Regions from separate parts of the Homo sapiens genome. Here region 1 is linked to region 2. The links come from fine-mapping of genetic effects on gene expression. A gene starts in region 2. The other region holds a variant in brackets. All regions are shown on one strand. Distances are between the middles of the regions.

Region 1 (5,536 bases), 350 kb before region 2:
AAGTATAGTAAACACATAAATTAGTAACCATTATTTGTTATTGTTATCATGTATTATGTAGTACACATAATTGTGTGTGCTCTAATTTATATGAATGACAGCACAGTAGGTTTTTTATGCCAACATTGCTACAAACATATAAGTACTGCTTTCCATTATGACATTACTATGCCTATGGTATATTAATAACTAGGCTATAGGAATTTTTCAGCTTCGTTATAATCTAATGGGACCACTGTAGTATGTGGTCCATTGTTGACCTAAATGTCATTATATGGCACATGATTATACTTGAAAATAATCAAAGTTATCAGATAGAGAAGGCTTAGGGATGCAGAACCATCTTTACAAGTTTTTGCTGCTTTGAGACAAATCCAACCCCGACTATTACCAGCTTAGAGACACCTCCTAGCTGCCTCTAGAGATGTATATCATCTTTGATCAGGGACTGGGGACCTAAAACAGGAACAATAGCATAGCATGCTTTTATGTGCAATGAATTTTCAAATATTAAAAAAAACCTTCAATATTGTTGTTATATTATCTGCACAGTATTAGGAAAAATGAGTAATAACTTATAAGTGAAAAAATACCTATGCTGCAAAAAACTCTTTTAATGTTGACTCCAGTTTCAGCAGAATAAATTTGTCTGATGATAGCCCCAGTGTCTACAGAAAATATACATTTTCTATTACTGGGGTTACAGTGTATGTAGAAGCACTGTGAGAAACCTTGACATTTTGGCAGAAAAGGATTTTTAACAATAAAATTCAAGAAAAGGTCATATTAGTAGAAATTTTGGTAGTCATTTTAAATGTCTCCCACATTATATGGCATCATAAATGCATTTAATATCAGATTGAATTATGGCTGTAATCTTTAGCCTTAGTAGTCTGAACATCATTTCATACCTAGCTTAATATCCTGGAATGTTATGTGTGGTTTCTGCTTTATTTAAAATAGAGGAGTGACAAGGGTGATGAATACATTTTATTTCTGTTTTCTCATCCCATTTTCTATTGCAAATGAATTTTTTTTCAGAAGTAGGTATGCCTACCTGTATCTTTGCAAAATGCATTTTCAGAAAATAGGTTTGGAATATTCATTTAAATCCTATTTCTTGTGACCCAATGTAAACTCACTGCTGTTAAATCTAAAGTGTGTGAGTTCTTACAGCTGAGCAGTAATTCTACTGACATTTTAATGTCATGTCCTCTCCTTAGCAGCCTGTTTGCATATTGCATGCAGGCTACATGTTAGGATTTTTTAAAACATGAGGTGTCTTGGAAAATGATTTTGACACAACTTGTCCTCTTGGACCAACTGTATTTTATAAACATTTTAATGCTTTACTCTTGAATGATCCATTTCACTAAGAGTCAGAAAACTGAGTTTCTGTCATGCCATGGTGACATGATGCTGACATTGCTGAGCTAGTTACTTATTCCTTTTACCTAAATGTTTAATAGAACACACCCAGCCCTGTGTGGGCATGAGAGGGAAATGGGCCCAGAAGTTGCAGTGGTTGCATTCACAAGCCATTAAGCTGTGGTCAGTTTCTCCCTAAAGCATTGTACCTCCCTTAGACAACTTCCTCTTTGGGGAGTTGCAATATCTAGAAACTTCAGAGGAAGGGGTCCAGCTGCAGGGATATGGTTAAAAGTTTTTTCAGAGGAGCCACTTTGCATGGCAGTGGGCCATTTCCTGCTATCACTCAGGCCCAGCCTACCCACAAGTTACAGTCTTTGGCAAGAAACAGAAGGAAACAGTGGTGGCTCTTGGAGCCACATGCTCAATTTTTGATGGTGCTCTTTGCGCAGTGAATGCCAGCTGCTCCTCAATCAGGTATGCTGCTGTTGTTCTGAGAGTGATTAGGAACAAAAGGGATGATGCAGATGTGTCAGGCTATGGGAAGTGCAAATGTATATTTTTGGAGCACTGAATGTAAAGAGATTTAGAAGTTTCCTGTTGGAAAGCAGGCTATCGAAGCAGGCAGGCAAAATGATTTTGACACCAATACCAACCAAGGGCAAGAAGTGGAAGCTTGGAAATATACTTGTTTGGGAATAAGAAATTGATAAGACAAATATACTTTTTAAAAAGAAAGATAAGAGAGGTCATGAAAGAATTGTGAAGGTCCAGTCTGTCCTATTTCCTTTGCTACCACCTGAGTCTGTTACCATGGTCTCACTCTTGCATGAAAGCAGTCATCTCCTACCTAAGCCCCTTCTGTTCATCTTGCTCCTTGGAGGCTGGCCTCCACATCCTTGAAAATACAAGTCTGATTTTGCCTCTCCTCTGCCCAAACCTGCCAACAGCTTCCCAACTCATGAGGAGTGAGATCAAATGTCTTGCCATGGCTGACATGGCATTCTTGGGCCTGGCCCTGACCTTCTCTGTCCTTATCTTGCACCACTCTTACTGTCACTCGCTCCCTTCAGGTCCCTCTGTTTCCTTGCTGCTCTTTTATATGCCATCCCTCCTCAGGGCCTTTCCACCTTCATTTCTGATTAGAATATTCTTCCCCCAGATATCCGTATTACACACTTTCTCACTCCATTATCATCTGTTCAAATAGCACTTAAAAAGAGAGGTTCTGTGGCCATGCTATCTAAAATAGCACACTCACATGCACCCATGACTTTCTCTCCACTTACCCTATCTTCTTCACAGCACGTAGCACCACCTGTCATATTCTATCAAGTTGAACCATATGAAATTGCTTTTGGGTGGATCAAGAACAGCTGAATATTGGCCATTTCATTTGGTTCAAACTAAAATATATTTATTAATTTGTTTATTATTTGTATTTCTTCTATACTATGATTGAAACCCTGTGGGTCAAAGGTTTTGTTTTGTTTTTGGCAACATCTCCAATGTCTAGAGCACAGCAGGAACTTAGACAAGTTGTATTGAATTAATGGAAAGGAAGAAGAAAAGCCATATAACTTGTTGACAGTAAGCAGTGAACACTTATATGAAAAATGATCTCTCT[C/G]CCTTTCTCTGTCTCTGTCTTGTGTGTGTGTGTGAGAGAGAGGGAGAGGAGAGAGAGGAAGCACTAGAGGACTCTAGAAAAAGGTGATGGGATGGGCTTCAGAGGGAATCCAGAAAATTAAAGGATTTATTTGGATCCATGTAAAGTTCAGTGTAATGTTTCTAGTTGTAGCTAGGGGCTATGTATGCACCTATAATTATTATATATTTTTTTCCATGTGGTTTTCTGAAACTGGGACCAAGTGGGATCAAACAAGCTTTGGATAATATAATTGTGAACTGAAAAAGTTTCATAATTGGTAAATTACAAGGATTCAGCTTGCCAATTGTGCTGTAAGTTGATTTTTACTAGAGAAAATAAGTTACTTTTTACTAACAGTTCTAGAAACATGGCTAATAATCTTACTATCATCCCTGCTACGGATGCTTAGAAATACTGCATGTCTAATCTTGAAAGGAAATAAAATCATTACTATGGGTCAGAAGTAAAGGTTGAATTGAAAACTCCAGGGATAAACACTTGAATTGATACTGTGGCTGCCTTTGGGACAGTATTATTAGTCTCACTAACAAAGGGCTTGAGATATGAAATGGAAAATTGAGGTTCTGTGGGTTGGAACAGAGATCTTCAGTACAAAGTTGTGACCTTGGAATGGAAAGGACTGAAAAAAAATCATCAGAACAGAAGAGACAAGGAAGCTGTGTCTTAGAAAAAGAATGTCTCCTTCAAAAACACATCTCTATGGATTTGTACCTCATTTAGGTTTGGGAATTGAATTTGTACTACTTGTGTAGTATGGAAAAATCACAACTTGAAAAATTAACTACAGAGAGCCCAGATTACTGATACTTCTAAAGCACCTGGCAGAATCTGTTACAAACTTCTTAGGAGAAAGATACCATTCAACCAAGTTTCACAAGATTCCTAAACATAAATATCTTCTAAAGATTAACTCACAACCTCAAACTATAAAACATAAGAACAAAATCCCCCACAAGTGAGAGTTAGCAAACACAAAGAGCAGGATTAGAATAAGACCTAAAAGTGATGGAACTATCACATAGACTATGAAAAATGAATATTGAAAATGATAGAGACATAAATGAATTATAAATATAAGAAAAAATAAGGTTAAAAAAAGAACACACTTTATAAAGGTGAAAACTAAAGTAATTGAAATTAATAATTTATCATAGGTTAAACAAATTAGATATAGCTGGAGAGAAAATTAGTAGACTGTAATATAATTTGAAGAAATCAACCAGAAGGCACTGAAAAGAAAATGATAGAAGATATGAAAAAGAAGTTAAGAGACATGTTGGAGAGCATAAGATTCAATATATGTTTCATAGGCCTTCTAGAAGGAGAGCACAGGAAGATTTGGGAAGAGGCAGTATCTGACTATAATGCAATTAAATTAATAATTTAAATTAAAAGACAACAAAAAGAATCCCACATGGATTTGAAATTAAATCAACACACGTCTAAACAACTCATGAGTCAAGCAAAAAAATAATGAAAATTAGAAAATATTTAAAACTGAATGTTAATATTAATTAAATTCATCCATTAAATATTGTATGAGAAGCAATGAAAGTTATAGTTAGAAAGTTATAGCTTTAAATGCCTATATAAGAAAATGAAAAAAGGTACAAATTAAAAAAAATTAACTTTTAATTTTTTTGGCTACATAGTAGATGTATATATTTATGGGGTACATGAGATATTTTGTACAGGCATGGGGTACAGGCATGCAATGTATCATAATCACATGGGGTGTAAATGGGGTGTCTGTCACCTCAAGCATTTATTTTTTGTGTTACAAACAATCCAATTATACTCTTTTAGTTATTTAAAACTGTACAATTGAATTATTTTTGACTATAGTCACCCTGTTGGGCTAGCAAACCTTAGGTCTTATTCATTCTTTCTATTTTTTTTGTACTCATTAACCATCCCCACTTCCCTCCCTCCTCCACTACCCTTACAAGCCTATGGTAACCATCCCTTTACCATCTATCTCCATGAGTTCAATTGTTTTAATTTTTAGCTCCCACAAATAAGTGAAAACATGCAAAGTTTGTCTTTCTGTGTCTGGCTTATTTAACTTAACACAATGACCTCTAGTTCCATCCACACTGTTGTAAATAACAGAATCTCATTCTTTTTAATGGTTTAATAATACTCCATTTTGTATATGTAACCCGTTTTCTTTATCCATTAATCTGCTAATGGATTGCTACCAATTCCTGGCTATTGTGACTAGTGCTACAATAAACACGGGAGTGTAGATATCTCTTTGATATACTGATTTCCTTTCTTTTGGGTATATACCTAGGAGTGGGATTGCTGGGTCATATGGTAGTGCTATTTTTAATTTTTTGAGGAACCTCCAAACTGTTCTCCACAGTGGTTGTACTAATTTACATTCCCACCAACAGCATACAAGGGTTCCATTTTCTTCACATCCTCGCCAGCATTTGTTGTTGCCTGTCTTTTGGATAAAAGCCATTTTAATGAGAGTGAGATGATATCTCATTG
Region 2 (5,000 bases):
GGTAAATAATTTAGCTAAAGTAACATGGGTAGGAAGTGGTAGATTGGAACTCAAGCTGTAACCTCAAAGATCACACAAGAAACTATTACTATCAATAACATTTTGGAATTATAAGTTAAATTAAAAACTCTACAAGTTGGAAACATATTAAATGATTTTCTTACATTTTAAAATGTTCCTGACTTGCAATTACATAGTAAAAACAAAACAAAGAATTTTTAAAAATCAGTGGGAAATATATAAAAGATAAAGTTTTCATGAGTAAAAAGGAAGGAGCAAATTGGTGGTGAAAATCAGGTTGGATTTGAATTATTCCAATTTAATCTGGAAAAAAATTATAAGTCACTTGTACTGTTAGTGTATGAGAAATTAGAATAAGAGTTTCGGATAGAGGTATTTTGCCACAGTTATATTGAGGCGAAAGGTGGCAAGCATTTCAGGGGAAAGAAGAAATTTGTGTACTTCTTTAAAATGGTTTTGGATGTTAATAATGCAATGAATTAAAAGAAAAAGGCAGTCTATACTGCAGAACACTTCCATTTCTCTCCTTTTGTGTTTGGGAAAATACTGGCTTAGTGCCCTCCTAGGCATGGTAAATACTTTGACCACTGCCACCAGTCACACTTGTGTCTGCAAAAGGGGCAAAAAGAGTGCCTTTGTAAAGTATGGTTTAATCCTACACAGTGGAGAGTGGTGCTTAGGAGATTGCCTTGTTTCTCTTAAGACACAACCTTTCTCAGATTTTGTGTATAGTCCACATATGAGCAGAGGGCTCATATTAAACTGATGGAGGAAAGGTATATTTCCAACCATAAATAAATAAATAGCATGAAGAGATGATGAAGGCCTTCTCCTGCCACTTGCACATTTCGTGGACTGTTCTTGCTGATAAACAAAGTGAGCACTTATTTTCATTGGCATTATTTTCCCAGTGGCATCTAGACTGTGTGGAGAGTGTTGAATTTTCAGCAGTCTAGAGAGTTTGAGACATGGTTCCTGATTCTGGTACTCTAGCATCCATTACATGATATGCTTGAAATGTACATATGAAAATATGTTAAGACTGAGTGTGTGGGAAGAATAGAATAATTACACAGCCAACAAGTTGTTGTGAGTCCTAAATATATTATCGTTCAAATAATGGATGGTACGTGGTAACTTCCACAAAGAAAAATTCTAGAATTATTTTAACAGTAAGCAAATTGCATTTCATCTTTAAGTAATATGGTCAAATAAAAAAGGTACAGGGAAAAAAGTGTCTATATATTGCCCTGAAATCCTCTTGGCTTCTTTAAAAAACATTTGACACTGCAGGAAAATGCTAATTAAAGGAAGACAAAAGTTGAATTTGGATTCTAGTGCCTCATAGGACTCTAATTTCTGTGAATATTGATACAACATGTTTTTAAAACACTTTAGTAATAGAGCTGTGTTCTGCTGGAAGTGGCAGAAAGGCAAATTGCAGGCAGGCACTGAAGATAGAGACTACCGAAGATAATCAGAGGTTTGTAATTGAAAAGGTGCCTTAACCTTAACTCTGGCCAGCGGGCTCAGCCATGGCTCTGCAACTAAGGACGACTCGCCTTGATTTCCAGCGAGGACCACTCCCGAGGCCAAGTTGGAGGAAGATCTTCAAGAGGAAACATTGGGCATTCTCCCTGCTGTGGGAAAGAGCCACACAATGTTTTATCCTATGTCAGGGAAAGAGACTGAATTAATCTTACTATTGGATCTTCACCCAGATCCAATTTTTCAGCGACGCGCATAGACAATATTCCAGGCAACTTTGCCTGGTCACATTCCTTATCTTTGGAAGCACCAGCATGGGGCTCATCGTCAACAAGCTCTGAGAACCAGCCAGGAATCGCCAAACTCCATTTCTCTAAGAGCACTGAGGCAAGCGGAGGTGAAGAGGAAGGCTCCGGGGCAGTGGGGAGCAGTGTGGAGGAGGGAGGCGCGGGCACGGCGAGGGGAAGGATCAAGAGGACAGGTCTGACTCCTGACTGGCTGGAGTGGTTTTGGTGAAAGTCACAGCTCGGGCGTGCCAGCCTGGAGCTGTCCAACTTTTCAGCAGCTCCGGGATCAGGGTTCCGGTGCCCTGGAGGCGGCTACCACTGCCGCCGCCGCCGTTGCTGCTGCTTCTGCAGCCCGAGTTGCTGACAATCCCTGCTCTCGCCGCCGGCGCCCAAAGGAAGGGAAGAAGAAAGGGAGGAAGAAGGACCAACCTCTGGCGAAACCGGGCACCGCGCACCCTAGTCTTGGTGACTTGGGGAGCCCGGGAGCGTGTCTCTGCCATAGCCTCGGTGGAAGGAGCCCTGCCGCGTTCTGTGACCCCTCCCGCTGGCAGGGCCCCCTCTCGGTAGCCCTGAGGCTCTGGCGCCTTCAAGTGAGAAGCTAAGCACCAGCCTCTGCTGGGCTGCAGAAGCGGCGGCGGCGGCAGCAGCAGCAGCAGCATCAGGAAGGCGCTCGGGCCAGCGCGGTGAACCCGGGCTGGGCAGCAGGTCGCGGAGCCGCGAGCCAGGATGGAGGCAGAGGGCAGCAGCGCGCCGGCCCGGGCGGGCAGCGGAGAGGGCAGCGACAGCGCCGGCGGGGCCACGCTCAAAGCCCCCAAGCATCTCTGGAGGCACGAGCAGCACCACCAGTACCCGCTCCGGCAGCCCCAGTTCCGCCTCCTGCATCCCCATCACCACCTGCCCCCGCCGCCGCCACCCTCGCCCCAGCCCCAGCCCCAGTGTCCGCTACAGCCGCCGCCGCCGCCCCCCCTGCCGCCGCCCCCGCCGCCGCCCGGGGCTGCCCGCGGCCGCTACGCCTCGAGCGGGGCCACCGGCCGCGTCCGGCATCGCGGCTACTCGGACACCGAGCGCTACCTGTACTGTCGCGCCATGGACCGCACCTCCTACGCGGTGGAGACCGGCCACCGGCCCGGCCTGAAGAAATCCAGGATGTCCTGGCCCTCCTCGTTCCAGGGACTCAGGCGGTGAGTGGAGAGCGCCCCCTCCCCCATTCAGGCAAAGGGTCACCTCCCCTTTTCTCAAATACTCCATCTAAGTCGGCTTATCACCACCAATTCTAGACCCAGGGTAAAATGCTAGTCTGGAAATTGGGGGAGGACAAACAGGGGTGTGCCTATCCTTTATTGAGAGTATGCTATTCAGGTGTGTGTAAGAGACCCCCCAAAAGTACTGCATAAATGTTAACTGGGGCCGTGTGTGTGTGTGTGTGTGTGTGTGTGTGTGTGTGTGTGTGTGGTGCGCGCGCTTCCCAGTTATCTGTGCCACGCACCAGCCCTCTCCCCACCCACTTCCATACCACCCTGGCTAGTGAGACTAAACAGGCAAAATCAGTTTGCTCTGGGTGGAGAAGAAGAGAAGGTGAAGGTTTTGCGGGATTTGACCAGCGAAAGCACCCAGCATCTGTCCACTCACCCTATTGGGAAGAGGGTCGGTGGGGCTGCTCTGACTGGGGAGGAGGGGGGAGTGAGAAAGCCTGGTCCCAGGATTGCAGCTAAAAGCCTAAGAACAACTCGCATTTCTCTTCGTCAGGTGGAGAAGTAAATTGAATAGCAAAAGGGGAGAACACGTGGGTGACTTGGAGAGTTTGGAGCAAAATGTTCAGCAATCCTTGAGAGAGACAAGGGGGTGAGGGAGGGAGAAGGAGCGAGGACGCTGTGGGAGTTACACTGTGTCGGTGTGTGCGAGCTTGTGTGTAGGGAGACCGTGTGTGTATCAGTCGTCCCTGCAAAATCCCAGGAAGAAAGCGCCTTGTTTTAGCAGCAGGCAAGACGTAGAGATTTGATTATAGTGATTTCCCCTTAACGTAAGTGCTCCGGAAGACAGGGCAGGGAAGCCGCCTATCAACCGGGAGTTTTAGTAGAAGTTGACCGCTGCTTCTCCAAGGAAATGAGTAAAGGACCAATTACAGCCATTCTGAGGAGTCAGCTCCAGATTCTTAACTCAGGCGTGGAGGTGGATGTGGGGCCCACGTTTGGTCCCTTTCCTGATAACCCAGGGACAGCTCCTTTCTTCCCTGTCCCAGGCCTTCCACGCCGTGAATCCCCTCCCCCACACAGGCACAGGAAAAAGATTTCAGGAGCTGCTGATCCTTGGCACATCTAATAGTAAAGTAGAGGGGTCGTCATCTAACCTTAGATGTGGACAGGCATCGATGTACTGCACCTCCAAGCCACAAGTCTGAACAATGGGCAGTTATAAATTGTAAATCAGGTCTGGGTGTGGAAACAGGAAAATCTAGGGCTGGGATTGTTTGTCCAACTCTGATTGACAGTAGGTTGGACTGATCAGAAAATCATAATGGTGTTCAAATGTGTGTTTGAGTTTTGTGTGTGTGTGTGTGTGTGAGCATGTCTCTCTGTTGTATACACTATGTACAAGGGAATCCAGCCAAACTATCATAACCCTGATGTGTACACATCATTTCAGCTTGCATATATGCTCTTAGCCCTTTGCCTGGCTCACACCCTTAGGTACCTTGTTGGAGATGTTCTTGTACCTGTTGGATGGGAAGAATAAGAATTGTAATTAATAACCTCAATTCAGATCAAAGACTGCAGACTTCCATAAATTAATATAAAAGTTTCATTTTTCAGCCAAGACTGCTAAGACCCTTTGTTTGAAGAGGTGGATGTCCTTCTCTCTCCCCTTTGGTTGAGCACGACACTATGTAGGACCCCAATGATAGAATGAAGGCAAGCCTGATACTTTGTATATTTGACCTATTAATAGAAAAATACCGTGTGATGATGAGCCCTTAATAAACATTAAATAAGAACAAGAGTTCTAGCTTGATCTGTGGGCTGATTGATTTTGTAGAGTTTCTTAATTGACTTCATTTTTTAATAAAATAGAATATGCCTGAGAGAGTGGAAGAAAGAAAAATAAGCTAATTGGAATAGAGGTATTGCATCATTGATTTGAATTTATTTTTTGCTATGCTTTCTACATTGATTAATTGTTCTATTTGAAATTTTTAGTTGAATGGTT

What was found. PIP is the estimated chance that this variant, and not a neighbour inherited with it, causes the effect.
Region 1: its variant is the best candidate, but not a certain one, in a credible set for the expression of PDE4D in whole blood (INTERVAL, PIP 0.57).

What each region holds. Positions count from the first base shown.
Region 1 is chr5:60,245,225-60,250,760 of GRCh38, reverse strand. It overlaps a transcript of PDE4D not described here. Among named protein-coding and RNA genes, the nearest start is that of PART1, 240 kb to the left of the region's middle. The variant C/G (reference allele first, on the strand shown) is at 2,996.
Region 2 is chr5:59,891,145-59,896,144 of GRCh38, reverse strand. It overlaps PDE4D (phosphodiesterase 4D), which reads left to right and starts at 2,419. Exons shown (of 15, transcript NM_001104631.2): 1 at 2,419-2,977. The coding sequence starts at 2,523.